7 linked regions of the Homo sapiens genome follow. The protein of the gene in region 4 interacts with the protein of the main gene of each other region in a pairwise test. Each region holds a gene or a part of one and is shown on either strand. Other genes may lie near its edges. The genes, in order: ACVR1B, NRBF2, CASP2, RXRA, TMPRSS3, RPS6KA6 and KIF1A.

Region 1 (3,500 bases), on a different chromosome or scaffold from region 4:
AATGAGCAGTCTGCTGTTGTTTCAGGAATGAAAAACAAATAGCATCTTCTGTAGGCTTTGTAGACACTAACTTCTAAATTGCACCATGCCACAGGAGCAAGTCATGTCACAACTGCTAGAGAGACCCTTCCACAATGTGAACCAGCCACTCACAGCATCCTCTCTGTGCTCCGGGTGCCACTACCTGTCCACGTGTCTGTCCCCTTCTTCCTGGGAGCTCTGTGAGGGGAGGGACTGTGTCTTGCTCTTATGTGTGATGGTCCAAGCAGCCAGCAGAGGTCTGGCCCACAGCAGTCAATAAATGTTATAGAATTAATGAATGAAATTTTAATTACTACCCACTATCTTCAGAATGGAATACAATCCTCTCAAAAAGGCCCCTCATAATCTGGCCTCTGCCTCCCTCTCCACCCACAGCCATCCAAGTTACTTGCTGGGCCCCAAACCTCACCTTTGCACATGTCTGCAGTGCTCTTCCCTGCAAGGAAGATTTTTCTTCCTGACCAGTTCTTGCCACCTTTGTCTCAACTGGGCTCAGGTGCGAGTCAGCCCCAATTTGTGCTCAACAGAACAACTCGTGTTTACCTCCTCTAATCACCCTTACTCGTCATCCTTTGCTAGTCAATGAGGTCCTCAAACATAGGGAGGTGCCTGGCACATAAGAGATTCAAAAACTAAAGCAATAAAAGGGAGAGGAAGAAGGAAAGAATCCTCAGGGACAGGACTGACCAAGAGCAGAGTCCGAAGGCGACACTTCGTGGACTACAGGCTTTTCTGTCGTTATCCTCCTTGCCAGGGTTGAGGCCGCAATTCCTCATCCTAGGGATTTTTTTTTTCTTTTTTTTTTTTTGAGACGGAGTCTCGCTCTGTCGCCCAGGCTGGAGTGCAGTGGCGCGACCTCAGCTCACTGCAACCTCCAGCTCACTGCAACCTCCGCCTCCTGGGTTCAAGCAATTCTCCTGCCTCAGCCTCCTGAATAGCTGGGATTACAGGTAGGTGTCACCGTGGCCAGCTCATTTTTGTATTTTTAGTAGAGATGGGGTTTTGCCATGTTGGCCAGGCTGGTCACAAACTCCTGACCTCAAGTGATCTGCCTGCCTCGGCCTCCCAAAGTGCTGGCATTACATGCGTGAGCCACCGCGCCCAGCCCATCCTAGTGATTTTCAAAATAAGCTTACGGGACCCCCTGCAGGAACTACAATGGAGGTGGGTTTGGGGGAGTGGAGAAAGAGAAATTGAGCAGGTAGGGTGAGGGGGTGTATCTTGTTTATCTGAGTAAGAACTGCTTGTTTATTTGCTTGATAACCTGGATTTTTGTATAACCTTTTCATGGAATAAAAGGCTCCACACTTTAAGGAAAGCATGGAAACCTTGACCTTACTCAAGTTTTCTTTCTACGGGTTACAATGATGAAGGCAAACAGAGCTGTGCACCCCATAGCTATGCACTTTCTCTAGCATCCTCTATCTGGGAATGCTGTATCCAAGCCCAGCCCTTACCTTTATTGTCAGCAGCAATAAATCCAAGGATGTTTTCATGGCGCAGCATGACCGTCTGGTATATCTCTGCTTCCCTGAACCAAGACCGTTCTTCACGAGAAGAGAATATTTTCACAGCCACATCACCACCCCTCCAGCGGCCCCGCCATACTTCCCCAAACCGACCCTTGCCAATAATCTCTTGTAAAACGATGGTTCGGGCCACTGTGCGCTGGACAAAGAGGGGTAACCCTGTGAACCAAAGAATAGGAAGAAACCTGACATTGCAAATTTGACAAATTTTCCAACTCCCACACTAATTGGCACAACGGAAACACCCTTAACATGGTGTCTTCATCCTACGCTGTCCATTAACCATGGAGAGCTGCTGCTGCCCATACACATTTCTAGGTAATCTACCAGAGGGCTGAGCCAGGCGGAGAGATGGGGAAAGAGTGAACACAAACAGGAAACGTGTATGATTAGCTACTCCTTATCTAGGCAATTTCTCCTCTCAGTAAGCACGGATGATAGATTTGAATGTAAATGTTTGACCAGATTTACCAACTCTTCAGCCAGCCACCTGTGGGCCGATCCACCCACATCTGCTTTATTTTGGTGGAGGAAGGAAAGAGGGCAGAGAACATGAAAGTGTGGGCTCATGTGCTGGGGGCCACCTTCTGGCTGTTCTGCTTATTAGCCACTAGAGGGCAGTGCTGTGCGGCCCATGGGTTCCCATCTCCAAAGAGAGCAATGCTCTGCTCACAAGCGAACTCCAGATGTAGAATGGAGGACCATCTATGTTTAGTCTAAGATTAACTTTACTGTCTTTATAAAACTCAACATTGCTTCATTTGACTCATTCAATGTATCTCTATATATCCAATCACCCTTACCATCACAAGTGACTCTTAACTGTCTTACTCCCACCCCCAATCAAATAATTAATACATTATTAATCCCTAGGTCTGGTAGATGGGAACTACCATTTACTGCATGCTTACTATGTATTAGGCTCCATGCTAAGGGCTTTACATAAATTATCTCACTTCCCCAAACCACCTGGAAGGTAAGGCGCTGTTATCATCCCCATTTTATAAACAAGAAAACTAAGGCTCAAAGAGGAGGTTATGTAATATTCAAATTCATACAAGCAGTAAGTGGCAAAGCAGGGCTTAAAATCTAGGACTGTCTGACTCTATAATCTATGCTTTTAATGACAACAGTATAGAACCACCAAAATGTTTCTCAAATTAGCCCCCGCCTCTCCATCTCCGTCCGCCTGTCCTACTTTTGGACCTTCTCTAAAAGACTTCCAACAGGTCTTTTGCCTCCCATCTCAGCCTGCTCTTGCCCTGTGCACCCACACACACCCCGCCTCACCCCACCCTTCCCAACAGAAGGCTGGTAGTGAATGAATTCATCCTCCACACCACTGCCAGAATTCCTTCCAAAGGAAAAAATGAACATTCATTTCCCACATGGAAACTTTCAGTAGAAGCCCCTTACCTAGAAGATAAAGGTCAGCCCTCAAGATCCTGTACACCTGGGGCAGCCTGACGTCCCCCTGCTTCCCCAGCACAAGCACATCATGCTGGTCTCCTCATCATAAAAGTTCTTTAAACATACAGTGGACCTTCATGCCTTTGTCTTTTTACTCAAGGTATTTTCATTGGCCTGGAATGTTCTTTGCCCTCTCGCCTCTCTTAAAAATTCCAACTCATTCTTCAAGACTCCTTTTTTTTTTTTTTTTTGAGATGGTGTCTCGCTCTGTCACCCAGGCTGGAATGCAATGGTATGATTTCGGCTCACTGCAACCTCCACCTCCTAGGTTCATGTGATTCTCCTGCCTCAGCCTTCTGAGTAGCTGGGATTACAGGTGCCCGCCACCACACCCAGATAATTTTTGTATTTTTAGTAGAGATGGGGGTTTCATCATGTTGGTCAGGCTGGTCTCGAACTCCTGACCTGAGGTGATCTACCCGCCTCGGCCTCCCAAAGTGCTGGGATTACAGGTGTGAG
Region 2 (3,500 bases), on a different chromosome or scaffold from region 4:
CATCAGCATGTTACTACAGGCATGCATGTAGAGATGAGATATTCAGAAGGGAAGCTAAAAAAAAGACCACAGGAAAAATCTCCCACATTTTAGGTAACAAAAGTCTTATAGTAAGTTTTGCATTATCAGCATGTTAGAAAACAGAAGCTCAGTGAAAATGAATTGGTTGGAATTGAATTGAATTACTATTTTTAGAACCTGAAATGGCCAACTATTTGAAACCCAAACTCCTTTTTATAATAACTAAGATAAAATGGCAGACTTGTTACAATCAGCTCCTGTTTTTAGGGATCTTTGGGCTCAGAGAGCTGTATCCAGGAACTGTTTACCACATTTATGCCATCTTCATGATTTAGAAAGAAGATTGGATTAGCAGGAGCTGGGAAATCCAACACACTTACTTGAAAAATAATCAAAGCTGATATTCTGGTGGGTCAGCAGTATCAGTCTTGCATATGAAAAGCAACACACATTATTACTATTGTGACTTTCTGCTCTTCAGTTTTACACTGAGTACTTAATAAGAATACTCACCTGCAGCCTTTTTGTGACAAGAAATAGCCTCTTCGTATTTGCCTGCAGCTAATAAACGGTCTGCTCGTCTGCTCTGTTGATGAGCCTAGAAGACAAACATCCCTAAGTTCCTCTGGATCATAAAATAAAACATGATTTCTTTCAAAAAGCAACTACCTTTTAAGAAGATAAATAATACTGTTTTGTTGCCACATATCAAATCACTATTACAGCTCTATCTGTAGCTGGGGAAATGTAATGGGTAGAGCCTAGAACTGCAGCATCTGAAAGGAACTGGCAACTTCTTTCACTTCTACCATAAGCCCTCTCAAGGTTAACACCAGGCACTTAACTCCTTCAGTGACTCACATTCTTCCACTCTTTGGAGATAAACCAAGAGTTACAATCATAGATTGTTATTCAAAATGTCTATTTTCTTGATTTTTAACAAGCTCCTTTCAAAACAAGAGCTATTTTGTAGATACTTTCACTAATCTGTATAGTCTAAAAACTATAATCAGGAAATCACTCATCATGTAGTAAAATCCAAGCTTCTCTTCTATCATCTCATTCTTTCAACATTAAAGTTACTATTTGTTTTTAAAATAAAAAATTTGGACATTGCAGTTGATGAATTCATGATACCAACATCTAATATTACAAAGATTGTTTTAAAGATATCTCATCAAAAGAACAAAGTCAAAAAAATCAGAAGTTCTAACAGCAAATAATGTAATTGAAGGAAAACTTATTAAATAAGCAGTCACTGGCCTCCTTACACTTTAATAATTTCAAAAGAGCTTTAAGTCCAGGCACAGTGGCTCATGGCTGTAATCCCAGCACTTTGGGAGGCTGAGGCAGGCGGATCATCTGAGGTCAGGAGTTCAAGACCAGCCTGGCCAACATGGTGAAACCCCATCTCTACTAGAAATACAAAAATTAGCTGGGCGCAGTGGCTCACGCCTGTAATCCCAACACTTTGGGAGGCCGAGGCGGGCAGATCATGAGGTCAGGAGATCGAGACCATCCTGGCTAACAGGGTGAAACACCGTCTCTGCGGGCGCCTGTAATCCCAGCTACTCAGGAGGCTGAGGCAGGAGAACTGCTTGAACCTGGGAGGCAGAGGTTGCAATGAGGCAAGATCATGCCATTGCTCTCCAGCCTGGGTGAAAACAGTGAAACTCCATCTCAAAAAAAAAAAAAAAAAAAAAAAGCTTTAATATACATTATTTCAGCTGCTTTAACTACGACTTTGTTAATGTGTTTTCCTCTCTTACATAAGGAGGCCCAAAAGACTGATGGGGAGGTCGTGTAACTTACATAAGATTATACATTTAACTAGCAAGGAGAAAGGCAGAGATAATCAGCTAAAGTTTTCTACCTCATGTAACGATTTTCCTCAGTAACAAACACACACGATTTAGCAAAGCTTCACAGCTTCACAAAAAAGCAAAAAGCATTGTACACCCATATTCATAACAGCATTATTCACAACAGCCAAAAGGTGAAAGCAATCCAGATGTCCATCAACAGATAGATGGATAAATGCAGTATACACACACAATGGAAAGGTACTGTCTTTAAAAGTAAGGTAATTCTGGCCGGGCGCGGTGGCTCACGCCTGTAATCCTAGCACTTTTGGAGGCCGAGGCAGGCAAATCACAAGGTCAGGAGATCGAGACCATCTTGGCTAACACGGTGAAACCCCGTCTCTACTAAAAATACAAAAAAAATTAGCCAGGCGTGGTGGGGGGCACCTGTTGTCCCAGCTACTCAGGAGGCTGAGGCAGGAGAATAGCGTGAACCCGGAAGGCAGAGCTTGCAGTGAGCCGAGATCGCGCCACTCCACTCCAGCCTGGGTGACAGAGCGAGACTGTGTCTCAAAAAAAAAAAAAAAGGGAAGATAATTCTGACACATACTACAACATGGATGAACTGTGAGGACATTAGACTGAATAAAATAAGCCAGTCATAAAAGGACAAATACTATACAAATCGACTTATTGGGTATCTAAAGTAGTCAAATTCTTAAAAACAGGAAAGTTGAATGGTGGAACAACTCATCATTGAACAGGGGAGGGGGAAATGGGGAGTAGGTATTCAAACGGCATAGTTTCAGTTTTGCAAGATGAAAAAATTCTGGACATTTGTTGCACAACCATGCGAATATACTTAACACTACTAAACTGTACACTTAAAAATAATTAAGAAGGTAAACTTCACGTGTTTTTTACATCACTTAAAAAAGGTAAAAAGTGGCTGGGTGCTGTGGCTCATGCCTATAATCCCAGCACTTTAGGAGGCCAAAGCAGGCAGATCACTCGAGCTCAAGAGTTTGAGACAAGCCTGGGCAATATGGTGAAAACCCATCTCTACAAAAAATACAAAAATTAGCCGGGTGTGGCGCTCGCACCTGTAGTAGTAGTCCCAGCTACTGAGGAGGCTGAGGTAGGACAATCACTTGAGCCTGGGTAATGGAGGCTGCAGTGACCTGTGATCGCACCACTGCACTCCAGTCCGGGCAACAGAGTGAGATCTTGTCTCAAAAAAAAAAAAAAAAAAAAATCGGGCATGGTGGCTCATGCCTGTGATCCCAACACTTGCGGAGGCCAAGGCGGGTGGATCATCTGAGGTCAGGAGTTTGAGACCAGTCTGGCTAACATGGTGAAACCCCGTCTCTACAAAAATTAGCCCAGCAGGATGGTGGGTGCCTGTAATCCCAGCTACTCGGGAGGCTGAAGCAAGAGAATCGCCGCTTCAACCCGGGAGGCAGAGGTTGCAGTGAGCCGAGATCGCACCATTACACTTCAGCCTGGGCAACACAGTGAGACTCGGTCCCAAAAAAAAAACAAATCTGTTCTGTCAGTTAGCTGAAAAATGATTTGTCTTGGATGCTTTTTAAAGACATGTCCCTTTGATGCTGCATAAAAGTACTTCACAGAATCACGTTTGCAACTGAGATTATAAATATTCTGGGCATGTTTACA
Region 3 (3,500 bases), on a different chromosome or scaffold from region 4:
TGTGCCTGCTGGGATATGTCTTAAAAGTTGGTTTATTCTACTTACATTTTTACTCACTCTGTTCTGCCTCTCACCTTGCATTCTAGTAAGAAAGAATTAGGGCCGGCCAGCCATTTTAGTGTTGACATCTCAGGTTGTGGTTTCATAAAGTAATAATAGTCCACAGTTGGTGTCTCACTTTTTTTTTTTTTTTTAAAGACAGAGTTTAGCTCTGTCACCCAGGCTGGAGTGCAATGGCACGATCTCGGCTCACTGCAACCTCTGCCTACCAGGTTCAAGCGATTCTCCTGCCTCAGCTTCCTGAGTAGCTGGAACTGCAGGCGCATGCAACCATACCTGGCTTATTGTTGTATTTTTAGTAGAGACGGGGTTTTGCCATGTTGGCCAGGCTGGTCTCAAACTCCTGACCTCAGGTGATCCGTCCCCCTCGGCCTCCCAAAGTGCTGGGATTATAGGCATGAGCTACGGCACCTGGCTGGGAAAGTATTCTTAACATTTGTGTAATCACAAGTCATAGGGTAGATTGTTTGTGGACCAGATTTCTAGAAATTGTAAACATTTTCATTATGGGCTGTTCGTCATTAACCTCAGTTACTGTACTGCACAACTGACTTTGTGACCTTTAGGGTTTCTATTTTGCAATCAATAATGGCCTATTTGTAGATTCATATTCACTCTTTATTTTGATTCCAGAATAGTAGAACTTTCTTCAACTTGCTTTGAGGTTGTCAGTGGTGAAATTAAAATTGCTAGGAGATTCACTTTGATCTGTTGGGATAGAGGATCTTTGTTTTCCATTCAGCATTGTCTGTAGTCTTCATTTCTCTTTCTTAGCTGCCCTCCTTCTGTGAGAGTAATTATGTATTTACTATATTTTTGGCAAGGCCAGTTTCATCCACAGGTACCTGGGTGTTGTCCTTTACATGCTATTTTTGCCAGCTTCCCCCTTGTAGCATATGCAATGTAGTTAAATCCACCCTTGCTTCAAAGCCATGGCAGCAACAGCTGCTTCAGTCATCAAGTATTCAGGTAGTTTATATGCTTTCCTGAGAAGTCTGCTGGGCATAAAGGGGCAAAGGGCAGGGTACCAGCCATAATTCCTACAGAAGGTCACTTAACAAAATGTGCAGTGTGTGTGTTTTCTTAGAGGTTTTGGTCTAGCCATGTCTTTTACTAGAAATCTATTATGTCATGGTTTTTCAAGTTGTATGCAGCTGATAAAGGATCTTACATGTCTAATAGTTAAAGATAAAATACTGAGTCACTAAGTCAACTATATATACTGCTGTTTTCTCAGAGACTGTCAGATTTGGTGAGTTTATGAGCTCACTTCATAAATAGCATTTCCATTTATGGTAAGCCTGATGCATATTCAGTGACCTATTGGATTCTAATTCTTTGGTTGAATTGCTCTGTAACTGGAATTGCAGTAGAGTTGAACTTCAAGCACCTTATAATGGGGGACTATGTGAGCTGCCACAGATTTTAAAGATCAGATGAGGGAGTTTTGACATCAGCATAAAAGGAAGTGTGTCCTCTTATATTCCTAACGACCAAACAAGATTAGAGAAAAAATCTTCTGTCATAGCTAAGAAGAAGAAGCGCCTAGGTAGATATGATCAGAAGGATAAGTGGAGGAGGCAGAACTTAAGCTGGCCTTGAAGGATAGAAGTTACTGAAGCAGAGAGGAGTGGTGAAGCCACCCTAGGCAGGGAGAACAGTATGTGGACAAGAAATGTGTGTGTTATAAACCAGGTAGTTGCAATGGGTGTCATAATTTGGTACACTGGGCATCTGCACAGAATGCTCTCTTCCTGGTGGGATCTCCCTAGAGAGTCAACTCGTTTATCATATAGCTATTTGGCAAGCAAAGAAACAGAACCAAAAAAAAAAAAAAGATCCTTTTTTCTTTCCCTATCAAATCTTTCTTACTTAAGAGAGGAATTCCATTTAAAAACAGGAAATAGTATAATTAGTCTTAGAGACTCCTCTTCCCCTGATAGTGCTGCAGTGAACATGGGTATTCTCACTGCCCAGATGTTTTCACTTTTCTCTTTGTTATTAAGTTTTTATTGCATCTACTTCATGAGGTTACTAGTTCTAGAATTATGATTTACCCTATGTTAGGAAACGTACTCTTCAAAGTGGAAATTTCCTTTTACCATGTGGTATTGTTTTTTTAGCTTGCATTTGGGTCACAAACTGCTTTGAAAATGTAAGGACAAGCTATGGGTTATCCCTGGAAAATGCAGCTGCCCATATAATTTAGCATATAATTTCAGAGGGTTCACAAGTTACTCTCTTCACATGTCCCCCAACCCCTAGCCAAAAATACACTTAGGAGTTAAGAACCCTGCTATTTATAGAAGTACTGTAATTTTATCAAAAACAAATCTGCAGATCCTATTTTAAGCTATGCTACTTGTAGAAAAATTCCTCCAAATGTCTAATCCCCATTTATTGAATGGTTTAGTCTTACTAAGTTTGGTTACAAAGTGCGTGTATTCTTTTTTTGGACATTGTTTTCTATTTACTGACCTAATCTCACTAAATTCAAAATGCTCGTGATTCGGTGCCCAGGTATATAATTTTTGTTTTCTTTTTTTTTATTTTGAGATGGAGTTTCACTTTTGTTGCCCAGGCTAGAGTGCAATGGCGCGATCTGGGCTCATTGCAACCTCTGCCTCCCAGGTTCAAGCAATTCTCCTGTCTCAGCCTCCTGAGTAGCTGGGATTACAGGCGCATGCCACCACGCCCGGCTAATTTTTGTATTTTTAGTAGAGACAGGGTTTCATCACATTGGTCAGGCTGGTCTCAAACTCCTGACCTCAGGTGATCCACCCGCCTCGGCCTCCCGAAGTGCTGGGATTACAGGCGTGAGCCACCGCGCCCGGCCTTTGTTTTCTTCTTTGAGCAAAATTAACTTCTTTAACTATTAAATGTTAAATTCTATTAGCATCAGCTCCAGAGGAACATTCACAGTTATGTATTCTCTTGAAATTATATATTCTTGAAAGAATTTTTTGATTATCTGTCATTACCTTAAGATTTCTATTATTATGGTTTGCTTCTACTTAGAAAATACAGATACTTTTCAACAACACCAGTCTCTTTATTTCTAGTTATATTGCAGACTTTCAAATATTTTATGTAATTGCATCTCAATTATCTACAAACAGAAGTATTCCGAACAGATCAATTAGTAGCTCTCAAACTTTAACATATCACAGTGTCCTGGAGGGCTTGTTAAAACACATTTTGCTGGAGCCCAAGATTTCACGTTTCTTCCAAGTTCCTGGGTGATGCTGCTGTTGCTGCTTTAGGGGCCACTCTGAGAACTACTGCAATATGTTATATTATAGAAGTGTGCTTTTTATTTTGGCAGTGTGTGTGATTAAATATATGTGTGTTTTAACTCTTCCACCCAGATAACTTACTTATTTTCATTACATTTTATTCAAGTTTATAATAAAATGAACTTGTTTTCTTTCTGCCCATCT
Region 4 (3,500 bases):
CTCAGAGCAGACATCGGGGGTCCCTCCCAGCTCCTGTTCTGTCCCACCCTGTTCTCCAGCCTCCTTCAGATCTTCTTCCAGGAATCAACCAGGGCACTCCCCATTCTGCAGACCCTCAGGGCCGCCCTTGGCCCACAGGGGAGAGCCCAGGCTCCTTAGGCAACCATCCCCACCTGGTCACCTCCTTTCCCCCGCTGTGGCCCACCCTTACTTCCTGGACACAGCAGTTGAGCTTTGGGGTTGGTGGGCAGGCTGCTGAGGCTAGGGGGCCCAGTACACTGCAGAGGCTGGTGTGATTCAGAATCCAGCTGCAGGGCTGGGGCAGCTGAGTCTGAATCCAAGAACGCCCCCAGCGTCTCCATGGAGGGAGCTGGCGGGCTTTCCCCGTGTTGAGGCTGGTGGATTTTTTTTCTCTGGTGACAAGAAGTAGACATGCCTCCCTCTGGCAGCCCCCACCCAGGGACACCAGGCCCTGGGGAAAGGTATCTTCCTGGACTGAAGGGAGCGGCTGGGGCTGTGGCATGGGAAGGGGCTTTGCCTCAGGTGGTGCTGGGTCCACAGCTGAGGAGGGACAGTGGTGTGTCTCACTGGGTTCGGGAGGGGTGGACTCTGTGCCCTCTGTGCAGCTGCGGCTCACCTCAGTTTAGCTGTCACGAGGCCCCTCCTTAGCACCTCGGTTCCCAGAATAAAGCCCCGCAGGCAGACCCTAGAGGGAGAGGAGAGGAGCCCACCCTCCGGGCAGGGCCAGGCAGGCCTGGCAGGGGCGGCACCTGGGCCTGGGTTCCAGCCCACTCCCTCTCGGGGTGTCTGGGAGTCCTTGCCTTGGCTTGGCCCATCTCAGCGGCCCTCGGGCCACGCCGGGCTCTCCAGAGGCCTTGGGTATCTGGGGTGTGGCCCTGGTGAGGGCTGCGACCTAACTGGGATGGGGTGTCTGCCCTCCTCCTCTGCAGGGTGCTGACGGAGCTTGTGTCCAAGATGCGGGACATGCAGATGGACAAGACGGAGCTGGGCTGCCTGCGCGCCATCGTCCTCTTTAACCCTGGTATGGCCTTCCTGCCTTGAGGCTTCTGGCCCCGTTCTCTGGTGGGGCAGAGGTGCCTGGGCCTCCTCCTGGCTGTACTTCTTGCCTCTGGCTACATGTGGGGCCAACTCCCACCCTCCTTGAGCTCAGTGTGCCCCCCTCCCAGTGAAAGTGTGGCCATGCTGCCTTCTGCTCACCTTGAGGGCCAGCCAAGGGGGCATGGTCCCTGGGCACAGGGGGACCCAGCAAGGCAGTTGTCATGAGGGGCTTGGTGGTGCCGTCTGGGCTCCGCGGTTCATAGTGTTCATCACTGTGCGTCGGAATCCAGACTCCGAAAGTGGCCAGCTGTGGTTGTGAACTTCCGGTGCTGAAGTTCAGGAGTCCCAAGCCCTGCAGGCTGGGGATGGGTCAGGCCTGCCGGGTGTTCCAGAGGGGACCAACCTCATCCCCAAGCCTCGGGTCCAGGGTGTTTCTGGGGCTGGGCCCCTGTGGTTGAGGAGAGCAGGGCTTGGGGCTGTGGGGCTGGGGCTGGGCACAGGCCTCCTGGCCGACAGTGCGGCCCTTCTCCAGCCTCTGGGTTCTCGGCTTGAAAAGCCTCCTAGGTGCTACTCCTTCGCCCAACAAGTGCTGACACGTGCCTGTTTGCTCGGTGCCCTGCTGGCATGGGAGGGCCCCTTCAAGCTGCTGGATAGGGCTTGCCTGCCTAGAGCTTGGGGTTTAGAGGGTCACGCCCACCAGCAGGCACCCCCGGCACGTGAGGGCAGGAGCACGGTTGGTCGAGGGTGCGGGCCACTTCCTCCGGGAGCTGCAAGTTAGGGGCCAGGGGAGTGAGAGGCACGGAGGTGGGGTGGGCTGGTGGAGGCAGCCCAGGCAGGGCCTTGAAAGTCTTGCTAAGTTTGGGTTTTTTCTTGGGGCCACAGGGAGCCAAGTCCTGAGGGGTTCCAGCCGGGAGGGAGCTATGGGTTTCTGTGTTTGGAAACTCAGCTCATTGCGTGATAGGGGCAGGTGGCTGGGGTGTGGAGGGAGAGGTTTGGGGCTGCTGTGGGGAGCTCACTTGGGCTATGGTGGAGGGAGTGGAGCCCTCTCGGCTCCTGGCCCTGACCTTCTGACCTTGCCCTTTGTCAGACCTGGCTCTGAGGGACCGGGCCGGGATGGAGATGGGCATCTTCTTGTGGGGAGAGCTTGTTTCCAGGGTCATTTTATCACCCAGGCTGTGCATCCGGGCCGTAATCCTGCCAGCTCGGAGGCTGAGTCATGCCACGGCCCGGCCCGGCCCGAGGAATCCCCATTCAGGTCCTGTGTGGTCTGGTTGCTAGAGCTGGGGCACCAGCAGGACCTGGGCACCGGCTTGCAGGGAGGGTGAGATTGTCTGGCACAAGCAGGGTCCAGGCACAGGCTTGCAGGGAAAGCGAAGAGACCAGGGCACAGGCATGCAGGGAGGGCGAGGAGACTGGCTGGAGCGGAGGCAGCTGGGGGAGCCAGGTACGTTGCCAAGGAGCCCAGGACACAGGCCAAGGTGGCATTCACAGGGGGTCCCTGGGCCTTGGGGGCCAAGGTGGCATTCACAGGGGGTCCCTGGGCCTTGGAGGTTTTGGTGGCTGCAATCTTAGCCTCTCTGTCCACTCTAGGCTCTTGAGCCCGGGTCCTGAGCTCAGGACTCCGCAAGCACACCGAGGATGGGTTTCCGCAGGGTCTGGGTACTCCTGGGGGCAGCAGCGCTATCTCCCATCCATGTTATGGGGCTGGGACCCAAGGGCAGCAGCAGCATCCATTGTCTCTCCCAGTTCCCAAGGCGGCTGGAAGGAAGGCAGCAGATCCCTGACACTTTATCGATGGGGAAACCGAGTCTCTGGAGGTCAAATAGTTGACCCAAGGTCACGTGGCTGGCAAGTGGCAGAGCTGAGCCTGGACCCAGAGCAGCCTGGCCTGGCCGTGGGTTCCACAGTCGTCCCCCTGCCACCAGGCTCTGGGGGAGCGGGCGGAGGCATGTCCAGCGGCATTCCTCCACCACCTGCTCTGCCCATGGTGGGGCAGCCTGGGAGACCCCACACAAGCCTGGGTCCTGGGGGCAGGTGCCCGAGACACGCCCCAGCTGAGGGTTCTGACCTGTGGCTTCTTCCTTTCAGACTCCAAGGGGCTCTCGAACCCGGCCGAGGTGGAGGCGCTGAGGGAGAAGGTCTATGCGTCCTTGGAGGCCTACTGCAAGCACAAGTACCCAGAGCAGCCGGGAAGGTGGGTCCCGCCCCGTCCCACACACACCCCAGACCCAGGCTCTTGTCTCCAGAGCCCCCACCCCCTGCAAGGCCATTTTATGTGAATGAGAAGGTGGCACCCTCCCCAGGCCCAGCCCATGCCAGCAGGTCCTGAGCAGGCAGCAGGAGGTCCTCCAGGCCAGTGGGCTGTGGCGGGCACACCCCACAGGCCCACGTCGTATCCCCACTGGAAGGATTACCTTGCACCTGGCGCATAGTAGGTGCTT
Region 5 (3,500 bases), on a different chromosome or scaffold from region 4:
TGTGGCTTTTGAGAAAGTGGGTCATTTGGATGGAGGGTCTCTAATAGGGAACAATTTTTCTTTCAAATACCTGAATCACAGGTCAGTTCAATTCGCCACCTGCCCCACTGTGTGGTCCACACTTCGTTCACTTTCTGCCTTCGGTAAGAGAAACCAGGAAGGCCGAGCAGTTCTCAGTCAGGACTCCTTGCTCGGCTGGCTCAGCAGGTCGGCCCCCCGCCATGCAGTTTCTCTCTTGACCTTGAGACCTCCAGAGTCTAAATTCACCTTGCACTGTGGTTCCTGGGCCAGGCCACATAGCGAGATAAAGTGGGGCACAGCAGCCCCACCCCTTGGAATTCAAAACAGAAACTGGGCTGCAGGAAACAGGCTGCTGACAGGGACGCAATTTCAATACAGGTTTCATTATTCACGGGCCAGCTCCGCACTGTGTGGCAGGGGGACAGTTGTTAGTGTTGCACTCTGAAAGAGCTGTTGGTTAATTCCTGCCTTCCTCCCTTTTCCCAGTCCACTTCGACTGCTCAGGGAAGTACAGATGTCGCTCATCCTTTAAGTGTATCGAGCTGATAGCTCGATGTGACGGAGTCTCGGATTGCAAAGACGGGGAGGACGAGTACCGCTGTGGTAAGGTCATGGCTCTTCCCCTGGGGAAACAGAAGGAAGCAGCAGAAGCCAACCCTGACCCTTCCCATCTGTAAAATGGGTCCAAGTCATTGCCATTTTTAGGTCATGTCTTCAGCTGGGATTGAACTGGCGTTTGCCCAAAGACATGTTGGGCTGGGGGGTCAGGGAGGGCCTTCCATGGAGCTCTGGCTCTCTTGGGGAGACCACATAAGCAATAAGATGAGACCAGCGAGAAGTCTCAGGGATCCAGAGTCACTGCTCTGTGATGGGGAGGCTGCCGTGGACAAGAAGTGGGTCAGATTTGGCAGAGGAGGGGTTTGAGCTGGCTGTGGAGAAACCCCTGCCTATGGTCTCAGGGTTCCACTGGCCACTAATAAGCCTTTCTTTCTGCACATCGGCCAGTCCGGGTGGGTGGTCAGAATGCCGTGCTCCAGGTGTTCACAGCTGCTTCGTGGAAGACCATGTGCTCCGATGACTGGAAGGGTCACTACGCAAATGTTGCCTGTGCCCAACTGGGTTTCCCAAGGTAAGTTAAAGAGCATTTCCAACCCATGGGCAAAACACAGAGAGGATAACAATAAAGAAAGACAACTACCATTTAGTTGGGCACTATTGGGTGCTTTAACGCTCTCAGATTACATCCTCACATCCACCTTAGGATGCCCGATATCATCCTCACTTCACAGGCAAGCAAACCAAGGCCAGACAGGCTAAGTGACTTGCTCAAGGCACATGGGAAGTGGCATGTTTGGGGGTTCCCAGGGCCAGGCCAGGATCGGAGATACGAACATGCAATAAAAAGTTTCAAAGTAGAAAACAAAAACAAAACCAAAAAACCCTCCAGCTCCTCAGCTTGCAGCTCCTAGAGTAGCTTCCTGGACACTTTCCTGCTTGGTCCTGGCGGTCACATCAATGTCCATGCACGCTTCCCCAAGAACCCCACAGAACCAATTGTTGAAAGTCAGAAATTTAGTGAAGACACAATCATCCAAAACACTTGTTTAGCAACATGTAGAACAAAGAACTATAACAGTTGACTATTCACTTTTTAGTGTTTGTGTTGCCTACATGATTTTTTGCATTGGAGTGACACAGTTTTGGCCTAGGCATGGGCCTCCTTCTCTCCCCTGGCCCCTTCCTTCTGACTTCCTGCGGCCGCTGTACTTCCACGGGTTCCCCTAGCAGCCTCCTTACTCCCCTTTGCTCTCAAGTCTCAGCACTCAAAGCAGGCAGGCTGCATTCTGCTTTGCACTCAAGTAGATGGGGTCGTTAAAGCCACACTGCCCTGAGTCCTCCACAGAGTCTCAGTTTTCAAATTCCATGAATCATATTCTCGGCTGTCTTTCCCCAAAGCTGGTGGAAGCCAAAATGCCCTCCAGCCTCCAGCCCTGAGGTCTGCCTCCCTCTCCCTCCACACCAACTGAGATTCAGAAATGAGCTGCAATTCAAGTTCAATGAGAAGAGCAAAAATCATCCACACTAACGTCTTCAGGAATGATGTATTACTCCTTAGAGACAAGGAGGAAGAGGTACACACACACACACACACACACACACTGCACACAGCTGAGAGCTTCCCCATTGGGCATTTCTCTTCCCCGCTGAGCCTCTTCCTCTGACTCATTGGGTGGGGGGTGTTGGGGGGCCTCCTTTTCTCTTCTCTCTGCCCTCCTCCTCTGTCCTGGAGGACCACCGCTCTGTCTGAGCAAACCCCAAGGCCTCTCTGCTCTGTTATGCAGAAAAACTCAGCTCAATCCCTCTCCTTCCCCACCCAGCAGACCCAAGTCAGGAGCCCCAGCTGTCCCAGGCATCAGGTAGAGGCCACTCATGGTGGGGGTAGCCTTCCCGTCTCTCTTCCACCCCAGCCCGTTTGGTAAAATATTCCTTCTCATCCTTAATATGCTCCCTCTACAAGGAAATCCAGGGAATGCGATGTCCCCCATCTCTCACCCCAATATTGCCTACTTTCTTCTCTATAGGCTTGTTCTTTTGTTCTCTATCCATTGCTTCAGTTTCTAAGATTTATTTCTGCATTTTGTTCTATTTTCTTAAATTCTCCTTAAAATCCTTCTTTAATCTTCTCTGCTCTACTACATCCTATGTCAGAGATCTGTGATTCAAAAATAAATAAATAAATAAATAAATAAATAACCAAAGGACGGTCAAGCTAGATTGCTTGGGTTCAAATCCCAGTGTAGACTCAGGCAAGTTCCACACACAGTTCATGCCTCAGTTTCCTTTCTTAGAAAAGAGGGATGATAATAGCACGTACTTGGAGGGGAACTGAAGTTCCGCTGACGCTGTGAGTGTGGAAGGGCTTGGTGGGCAAGAGCACACTGGGCGAGTGTGTGGTTGTGGCTGTCATTGTTACCATTTTGAGACTTGGACAGTTCATGGGGCTCCAGTTGCAGCACTGGGGTCCCCTTGCCTGGCACAAGCCCCGCCACCTGCACTGGGGCCAAGCCATCCCAGCAACCATCGGCTCTTTCATGCCAGTGCCAGCGGAATCCGTGCATTGAGCAATCCCTGGAAGGGCTGCGAAGGTCGTGCCCGCCGCCTTGATTACATTTTCCTCAAAACTCAAAGTTGACTGAACTTTGTATTCTACATACACACCCCCATAGCATTTACAGTAAGCTGAAGAAATCCTGTTGATAAGCTGGTGTGTTCACTATGAAAACAAGCCTACTGTACTGTGTTTTGTTCATTTCACAAGGGAAGGAGAACATGGCTGTTTATTCACCATCTTCCATCTTGTGACTCTCCAAACATGTGATTCTTCTTTAAAAAGTTGCATCACTTTCACCACTGTTCTCCAGAAGACCTGTGTCCTGGCACTGTAAAAATGAGCTGGGCTCTGGTGTTCGTGGAATCGC
Region 6 (3,500 bases), on a different chromosome or scaffold from region 4:
GCTGCTGGGGCATGGGGAAGGGGTGTCATCAGTGATTCATGACTGTCTCTTCTACCCTCTTCAGTGCCTCTTTCAGCAATATGAAGTTAAAACTAAGTACTGTGATTACTCACCCGATTTTTGATTCTTGTGATGGTGCTTTTCTGTGTGCAGAGAGTTGTTAAACTTTGGTGTTCCTGCAGAAGCTACAAATGGTATAGGCTTCTATTTTGCCATCTTGCTCCATCGTTTCCTCCTGTAGCTTCTTTTTCATTTTCTTAATACCATTTTCTGAAGAACAGTTTTGTTTATTTTGATGATGTCCAGTTTGTCATTATTTTTCTTTTATGGATTATACTTTTGATGTATCTAAGAAATCCTTGTCTAACCCAAGATCACAAAGAATTTCTATTTTCTTTTTTGTAAATTTTATAGTTTTAGGTTTTACATGGTTTACGATCCATTTTGAGTTAATTATTTATGGTATGAGGATGAATTTTTCTATATCTCTATCCTACTTGTTCTGGTACCATTTGTTGAAAAGACTGCTTTTTCTCCATGGAATTGCTTTTGCACCTTTGCAAGAAATTAAGTGACAATATAGAGCCAGTTCTGTTACAGTGTGACATATGTGATCTAAATCACTGCAGTATGCATAAATCCATAGTATATAAACCACAGAACTTATGGGGAAAAGGAGGCAAGGGGCATAACTTTAAAATGTTTGATCAGTGATACACAAAAGAAAAGAAAGTAAAAAGGGTAGCATTGTTCTGTATGTTCTAAATGATTAAGAAATACATAAAGACTGCAATAAATACAGTTCCTTACCTTGAAAAAGACCCGAAGTTTGCTTGTGGAAGTGGGTGTCAGAAAAGTTACAGTTTGTAAGTTATAATGATGTAGTGGAAGTTAGATTATCTGGAATTGGAAGGAAAATTTTAACGCTAGAGGTGGACAGGAGTGGCTCATAACAAATACAGTGAATTAGCTGGTAGATGTTTGAGGTGTGTGCATATGTGCATTTTATGTATTTCTACTTTCCTAAGCTCAGCTGATTCAGTTTTCTGTGCTCATGTAACGCTTCCTGCAGACAAAATCACTGATAAGCCAGTGTGAAATTCACGTTATACTTAGATTGTTTGCTAAGATATCAATTGCATTAGAACAAATTTGCATTTTCAAAAGAAGCATTATAGCAGAATTAACTGTATATGTCAGTCTATCATTGTACACTCTTCTGTTCCATTGATATATATGTCCAACCTTTTTCCGGTACCCCACTATCTTGATTACCGTAGCTTTATAGTAAGTGTTGAAGTCAGGTGTAGTGTAAGTCCAACTGTTTTCTTCCTTTTCAAAATTGTTTGGACTATTTTATTTTCTTGACTTTTTTATACAAATTGTAGAATCAGCTTATTGATTTCTACAAAAGAAATTTTGCTGGGATTTTATTGAAGTTTCATTGAATTGGTATATCAGTTTGGGGAGAATTGATACCTTAACAACATTAAATCGTCCAATTCATGAACATGGTATAACTTCCCATTTATTTAGGTCTACTTTGATTTCTTTCATCAGTGTTTCCAGTTTTCAGCATATAATTCTTGCATATATATTTTATAGCTGTAGATGTATATTTATACCTGTAGATTTCATGTTTGATATTTTTGGTGGTATTATAAATGGTACTTTTTAAATTTCGTCTTCCAGTTGTTCATTAGTAATACCAAGAAATAAGATTGATTTTTATTATTGACATCTTTAGCTCCTTGAAGGCTTTGAACAAAAATGGAAGCTCACCAAAGCCAAAGCAAAATTTGCTTTTTTAATATTTTAAAAAGTATAAGTTACTATTTCTGTTTTGTCTTAGTCTATTTTAAAACTTAGATCAATACGGCAGCTTTGATTTAATTGTTGTTCCCTCACATTTTTTGCACTATATTCTAGTGTAGACCTGAAAGCATGTATTTTGAGGATGAGATTTCATGGAAGGATCTTTAAATGACCTTAAAGAGTATTGTTATGAAATACAGGCTGCTTTCTCTTATTGATCTCACAGGAACTTTCTTAAGAGTAACTGTAGGCCATCCATAAATAATTGTAATGTTTAATACATTATTTTGTTTCTTTTGACGTTTTCTATTTTCTGAAGTTTTTCAGACACATTTTTTGGTAATACTGTTATTATAGATTTTGGACTCAGCAAGGAGTCAGTAGATCAAGAAAAGAAGGCTTACTCATTTTGTGGTACAGTAGAGTATATGGCTCCTGAAGTAGTAAATAGGAGAGGCCATTCCCAGAGTGCTGATTGGTGGTCATATGGTGTTCTTATGGTAAGTAGCATTATTTGTTTTAATTATGCCAACCTGTGATTGATATTACTTATAATTTTATTTTAATTCAAATTTTGGGATTTAGCAGGTCAGAAAGGGGTTCTGATAATTTATAATTAACACCAAAAACCTTGTGATTGGCTAGCTGTTACACAATAAAAATTAAGATTTTGGTGTTCTGATTTATTTTAAAGTTGCTAGTAAAAAGGTAAATGACAGCATTGTTATTATAAACTATTCATATTTGATACTTATGAAAAGGTCTGTCAGATTCTATATTTCAGAATGATGAGTTTATCAGTTACATGGTATTTTAATTGAATGTTACAGAACTTAGCACCTTACCATATAGTGTCTTATTGTCAGATTGTTCCATGTATTCCCTAGAAAGGTTATAAACCTGTTGAGCAGAGGAATCATGTCTTATACTACTTTTCATCTCCCATAGTATCAAGCATAGTGAGCATTTCAGTAGATGCTTAATACAGACTGACTAATTTGGTATGAGATTAAGCATAGAATTTGCAGTAGTCAGTAGGATGATAGATAAATAGCTGTTGAATTAGATATAATTTGCTTTGGAGGTCTGATCCATTTTGTCCATTTATCACTGAGTAGCACATCAAATGACACATCAGCATGTTAAGTGTCTCTTATAAGCCTGACATATTAGGAGGCCTGTGGGGTAGGAACTGATTCTAAGTAAAATATTTGGTCTTTTTCAATTGGAGTAGCTAAATAAACTCTCAAGAAGTACCTTAGGAGTTCAGGGAAGATTTAATGTAAGCTGATGTAGGCAAACTGAAAGAGTTGGAACTTAAATTAAGCCCTGAAGGATGGATAAAATTTAAATAGTTGTGTGTCAAGAAGGAGAGTTATTGTGATCATATTAGCAAAGACTTGGAGAACCAGTTTGACTAGAGAAGTGGAGAAAGAGGGCAAAGGTGGAGGAAGTGAAGCTATAAACCTATAAGCATTTATACATGATTCTCTGGGTAGGAGGAAACTTTTAGATTCTTAAACAGGCTGGAAATTAGAGAAAATTGTATTTTAGGAGGATTAGCCTTGTAAGTGGATTGTAATGGAAGAAACTAGAAATAGGAAGACAAAAGAGATCTTTAAAGACAATTGTAAGATTATAGAGATTTCAAAGTAAGCAGTTGTTAACCTTGGTAGCAAATTAGA
Region 7 (3,500 bases), on a different chromosome or scaffold from region 4:
CCAGGGACACAGCCAGGCAGCGTTGGGCCTGCGTCCTTGCCGGCTTCTGCCCCTTAGGTGGTGGCCTCCGGCCATAGGCCCATCCCTGCTACAGGAGGGTTTGGGATCCCAGAGCTTTGCATCCCAGTCCTTTGGCATGGCACCTGGGCAGAGGCAGGGGCACAGTGGCCCCACCTGACGAAGCCAGCTTGCTCTTTAGCTCCTGAGCCCCACTGGGATCCCCACCCTCAGCCTGGCTGGCCTCTCGCCACCCCAGTGCCCCCACCCCCAGGGCCTCAAGAACCCAGGGAACAGCTGGCTGGGCTTGGCCCACGTGCTGCAGTTGGGGGTGCTGTGGGGCAGAGGGCACAGTCAAGGTCAGCAGCAGGTGGAGACTGAGCCTCCTGACCTCTCCTGCTCCTTGCCAGCCCATCCTGCCAGCTTTGGCCTCCTGCAGGCCTAGTGCATTGTAGAGATTGATCCGGATGTGTGGATATGGGACTTGGATGTGGGACTCAGAGGCTGGGGTTGCCGGAATGAGTAGGAGGGGCTGCTGCCTCTCTAAAGCCTCCTCACCCTGGATTTAATCTCCTAATCCCAGGCCTTGTGGTCTGGGCAGGCCCAGCCCTGGCTGCCACAGAGCCTGGGGATTCAGATGACCTTTGGGGGTCCCTCCTGCTTGCCATCCCTGCCAGATTTCAGGACGCCTTGGGGTATAGGGAGGGCAGGCCAGTGCCTGGCTCTCCAGGCATCCTCGTGCTTATTCCTCACCCCTCCCCACAGTGCCCTGGAGGGGTCCAGAGCAGTCACCCGGCCACACACACTCATAGTCACATGCATCCACTCGAACACACACAGATCCACATGCATATACACATACACACACATTGCACACACACTGACACACACATGCACGCACACCCACCCATGCATACATTCACACACACAGACACTCATACACACACATGCATGCTCATGCACACTCACATACCCACACATACATTCACATACAAACACACATACACACATGCTTATGCACGCATGCATACACACATGCATGCATGCAGATAGACACACACACACACACACACTCTGCATCCCTTGTCCCTGTCTTTGTTCTTGCCTGGGTTTCTTCTCAATACTTTCTACTCAACCTCCACATTAGGTTTTAGGTCCCCCTCAAATGCTGCCTCTGCCATGATGCCTGCTGTCACCCCTACCCCTCAGATTGGCACCCCCTCCACAACCATAGGTTTCCAGGGGTGGGGAAGAAGACAGAGAACACTGGTCATAGCCTGCACTGTGCACCTCATGTGCTTCCCTTTATCCCATGCCACTCCACACCTGAACAATGAGAACAGCACCGCTTGGCTCGGACCCCACTGAGCCAGGTGGTGGTGTTCCCATTTTCCAGGTATGGAGACTGAGGCTCCTGAGAAGCCCATGTGGCTTGTAAAGTGAGGACCTGGGACTCCGAGGATGGTAGCTCCTTTAGTGCTTTCTGCTCATCCCTCCACTTTCTCCTCCACCCCCATTACCCCCCACTTCTCCCACCCCCACGGGGGCCAGCACGGTGCCTCACACAGAGTGAAGACTCAGTCAGTGCTCTTCCATGGCTGAGCCGGTTGTTCTAGCCCAGGTACCGCATTTTCTGGTAGAGTCCAGGTTGAGCTTTGGCCACCCTCTCAGGGGTTGGGGTGTCTTTGGGTCTCAGTGTCTCTTGTTCAGAACCTATGGATTCCTGAGCCTGGCTTAGGAATGACAGGCACCCCCTTCCCTCTGGGCCTCCCGTGGGGCTCCTGAAATGCAGCTCTAGGGACAGGCATGGCCCCGGACTGCTCCTGCAGGGCCCCTTCCCTGAGGCTGGTAGTGCCAGGAATGCCCTCAAGGGGTTCCTGCCCCCACCTCAGCCCTGCCAGAAAGGCCCACCTGAGGGTGGGCCTCAGTTTCCTTCTCCATCTGTCATCAGCTCAAGCCAGGATGGTGCAGGACAGGGCTGGGCAGTCAATGCTCAAGGTCATGGGTCGGTGTGGCTCCTGAGGAGCTGCTGTGGGGCTGGGGTGGGACTGTACTCAGTTGCTTGGTGTCATCTGGTCCCCACTCTCCTGCTTCTGGGGCCAGGGCCCCACCATGGGTGCAGGTCCTTGGGGCCTGGGAGGGCTGCAGCTCTAGGACAAGTAGTGGCTGCAGTGGGCTAGGCGCAGACCAGAGGAGCACGCTTACGGCCCCACACCCTTTGCGTCAGCTCTGTACTTAGGCAAGATGTTCTTGGTTGGTGTTTTATTTTCTCCAGCTCTTGGTTATCTTTATTTTATTTCATTTTAGAGACAGGGTCTCACTCTGTCACCCAGGTTGGAGTGCAGTGGTGCAGTCACAGCTCACCACAGCCTCAACCTCCTGGGTTCAAGTGATCCTCCTATCTCAGCCTCCTGAATAGCTGGGACTATGGGCATGTATCACCACACCTGGCTAATTTTTTGTAGACGGGGTTTTGCCATGTTGCCCAGGCAAGTCTTGAATTCCTGGGCTTAAGCAATCCTCCTGCCTCGGCCCCACAAAGTGCTGGGATTTTAGGTATGAGCCACCGCGCCCAGCCTTTTTATTTTCTTGAATGAGTTTTTTCCCTTTTATCGCACCTCCAGAAGTGGCCTCTGGCAGCTGCTTGCCATGTCCCCTGGATTGGAGTTTCTGTTTCTTGGACCCTAGAGCTGCTTGTTTCTTGGTTTCCTGTCTTGTTTTGCTGGAGCACATCCTTGTGTGACTTCCTTGAAAGGGTGCATGAGTCTTTGGTGTGTGAGAGTGTTTTTGCTGTGTCCTTGCTCTGGGTGGTAGTGTCTGGGGTACTTCTGTTCCTAAGTAGCTTTCCTGGGAACTCTAAGGATAGGGTCACCATGGCTTTCTGCATCAGGTCACTTATGAGCAGGCTTTGTTGGCAACTCGTCTTTTCTCCCTGGAAGCTTTTAGGATCCTGTCTTTTCCTTGGTGTTCTAACTTCATGTCGACGGGTGTAAGGATGGGGTTCGCATTTATTGGCACTCGGTGGGCCCTTCACACTGAAGTCAGGGTCTCTACTTCTATTTGTTCGTAATTTCCTCCTTTTCATTTTTTCTTTTACCCTGAATTCATGGGTTGGTCTGTTTGGTTGCTTTTCTCTTGTATATTCTGTCTCCTTGTTTATATTCTAAAGTCCTTTGACTGCCTTTTCTAGGGTTTTTGGAATCTTGTACTTCATCTCTTACATTTTTCATCTCTAAAATCTTCACGTTTCTAAATGTTCTGTCTCATAGCATTCTGCCCTTGTTTTGAAAATGAGCATCTTCTTGAATCTCCCGGGTGCGTGGACAGAGGTTGTGCTCGGTTGTTTCGCGTCTGTTCCATGCTTTGCCTGTCCTTCCCGCAGGGCCTGTTTTCTGCTGGCAGCTCTGGTCCTTCCCTTTCACACTCTGTTCTCACGCCCGAGGAAGGCATTAGTTGGCACATCATGTGTTAGGGAGGCCATTGGCGGGAGCGGCAGGGCTGCT

Evidence for each region.
Region 1: the proteins of RXRA (region 4) and ACVR1B interact in a two-hybrid assay, tested with the Homo sapiens proteins (one large-scale study listed by BioGRID and IntAct).
Region 2: the proteins of RXRA (region 4) and NRBF2 interact in a two-hybrid assay, tested with the Homo sapiens proteins (one study listed by BioGRID).
Region 3: the proteins of RXRA (region 4) and CASP2 interact in a two-hybrid assay, tested with the Homo sapiens proteins (one large-scale study listed by BioGRID and IntAct).
Region 5: the proteins of RXRA (region 4) and TMPRSS3 interact in a two-hybrid assay, tested with the Homo sapiens proteins (one large-scale study listed by BioGRID and IntAct).
Region 6: the proteins of RXRA (region 4) and RPS6KA6 interact in a two-hybrid assay, tested with the Homo sapiens proteins (one large-scale study listed by BioGRID and IntAct).
Region 7: the proteins of RXRA (region 4) and KIF1A interact in a two-hybrid assay, tested with the Homo sapiens proteins (one study listed by BioGRID).

The regions. Positions count from the first base shown.
Region 1 is NC_000012.12:51,979,199-51,982,698, reverse strand, and holds part of ACVR1B (activin receptor type-1B isoform a precursor), read right to left. Parts: intron 1,731-3,500; coding exon 1,500-1,730; intron 14-1,499; coding exon of another isoform or gene 1-13. UniProt on the Homo sapiens protein: Transmembrane serine/threonine kinase activin type-1 receptor forming an activin receptor complex with activin receptor type-2 (ACVR2A or ACVR2B).
Region 2 is NC_000010.11:63,143,328-63,146,827, reverse strand, and holds part of NRBF2 (nuclear receptor-binding factor 2), read right to left. Parts: intron 620-3,500; coding exon 535-619; intron 1-534. UniProt on the Homo sapiens protein: May modulate transcriptional activation by target nuclear receptors. Can act as transcriptional activator (in vitro). Involved in starvation-induced autophagy probably by its association with PI3K complex I (PI3KC3-C1).
Region 3 is NC_000007.14:143,294,851-143,298,350, forward strand, and holds part of CASP2 (caspase-2 isoform 1 preproprotein), read left to right. Parts: intron 1-3,500. UniProt on the Homo sapiens protein: Is a regulator of the cascade of caspases responsible for apoptosis execution. Might function by either activating some proteins required for cell death or inactivating proteins necessary for cell survival.
Region 4 is NC_000009.12:134,430,955-134,434,454, forward strand, and holds part of RXRA (retinoic acid receptor RXR-alpha), read left to right. Parts: intron 1-950; coding exon 951-1,042; intron 1,043-3,147; coding exon 3,148-3,253; intron 3,254-3,500. UniProt on the Homo sapiens protein: Receptor for retinoic acid that acts as a transcription factor.
Region 5 is NC_000021.9:42,386,053-42,389,552, reverse strand, and holds part of TMPRSS3 (transmembrane protease serine 3), read left to right. Parts: intron 1-403; exon of another isoform or gene 404-507; coding exon 508-624; intron 625-1,026; coding exon 1,027-1,150; intron 1,151-3,500. UniProt on the Homo sapiens protein: Probable serine protease that plays a role in hearing. Acts as a permissive factor for cochlear hair cell survival and activation at the onset of hearing and is required for saccular hair cell survival. Activates ENaC (in vitro).
Region 6 is NC_000023.11:84,118,700-84,122,199, reverse strand, and holds part of RPS6KA6 (ribosomal protein S6 kinase alpha-6), read left to right. Parts: intron 1-2,172; coding exon 2,173-2,315; intron 2,316-3,500. UniProt on the Homo sapiens protein: Constitutively active serine/threonine-protein kinase that exhibits growth-factor-independent kinase activity and that may participate in p53/TP53-dependent cell growth arrest signaling and play an inhibitory role during embryogenesis.
Region 7 is NC_000002.12:240,813,720-240,817,219, reverse strand, and holds part of KIF1A (kinesin-like protein KIF1A), read left to right. Parts: intron 1-3,500.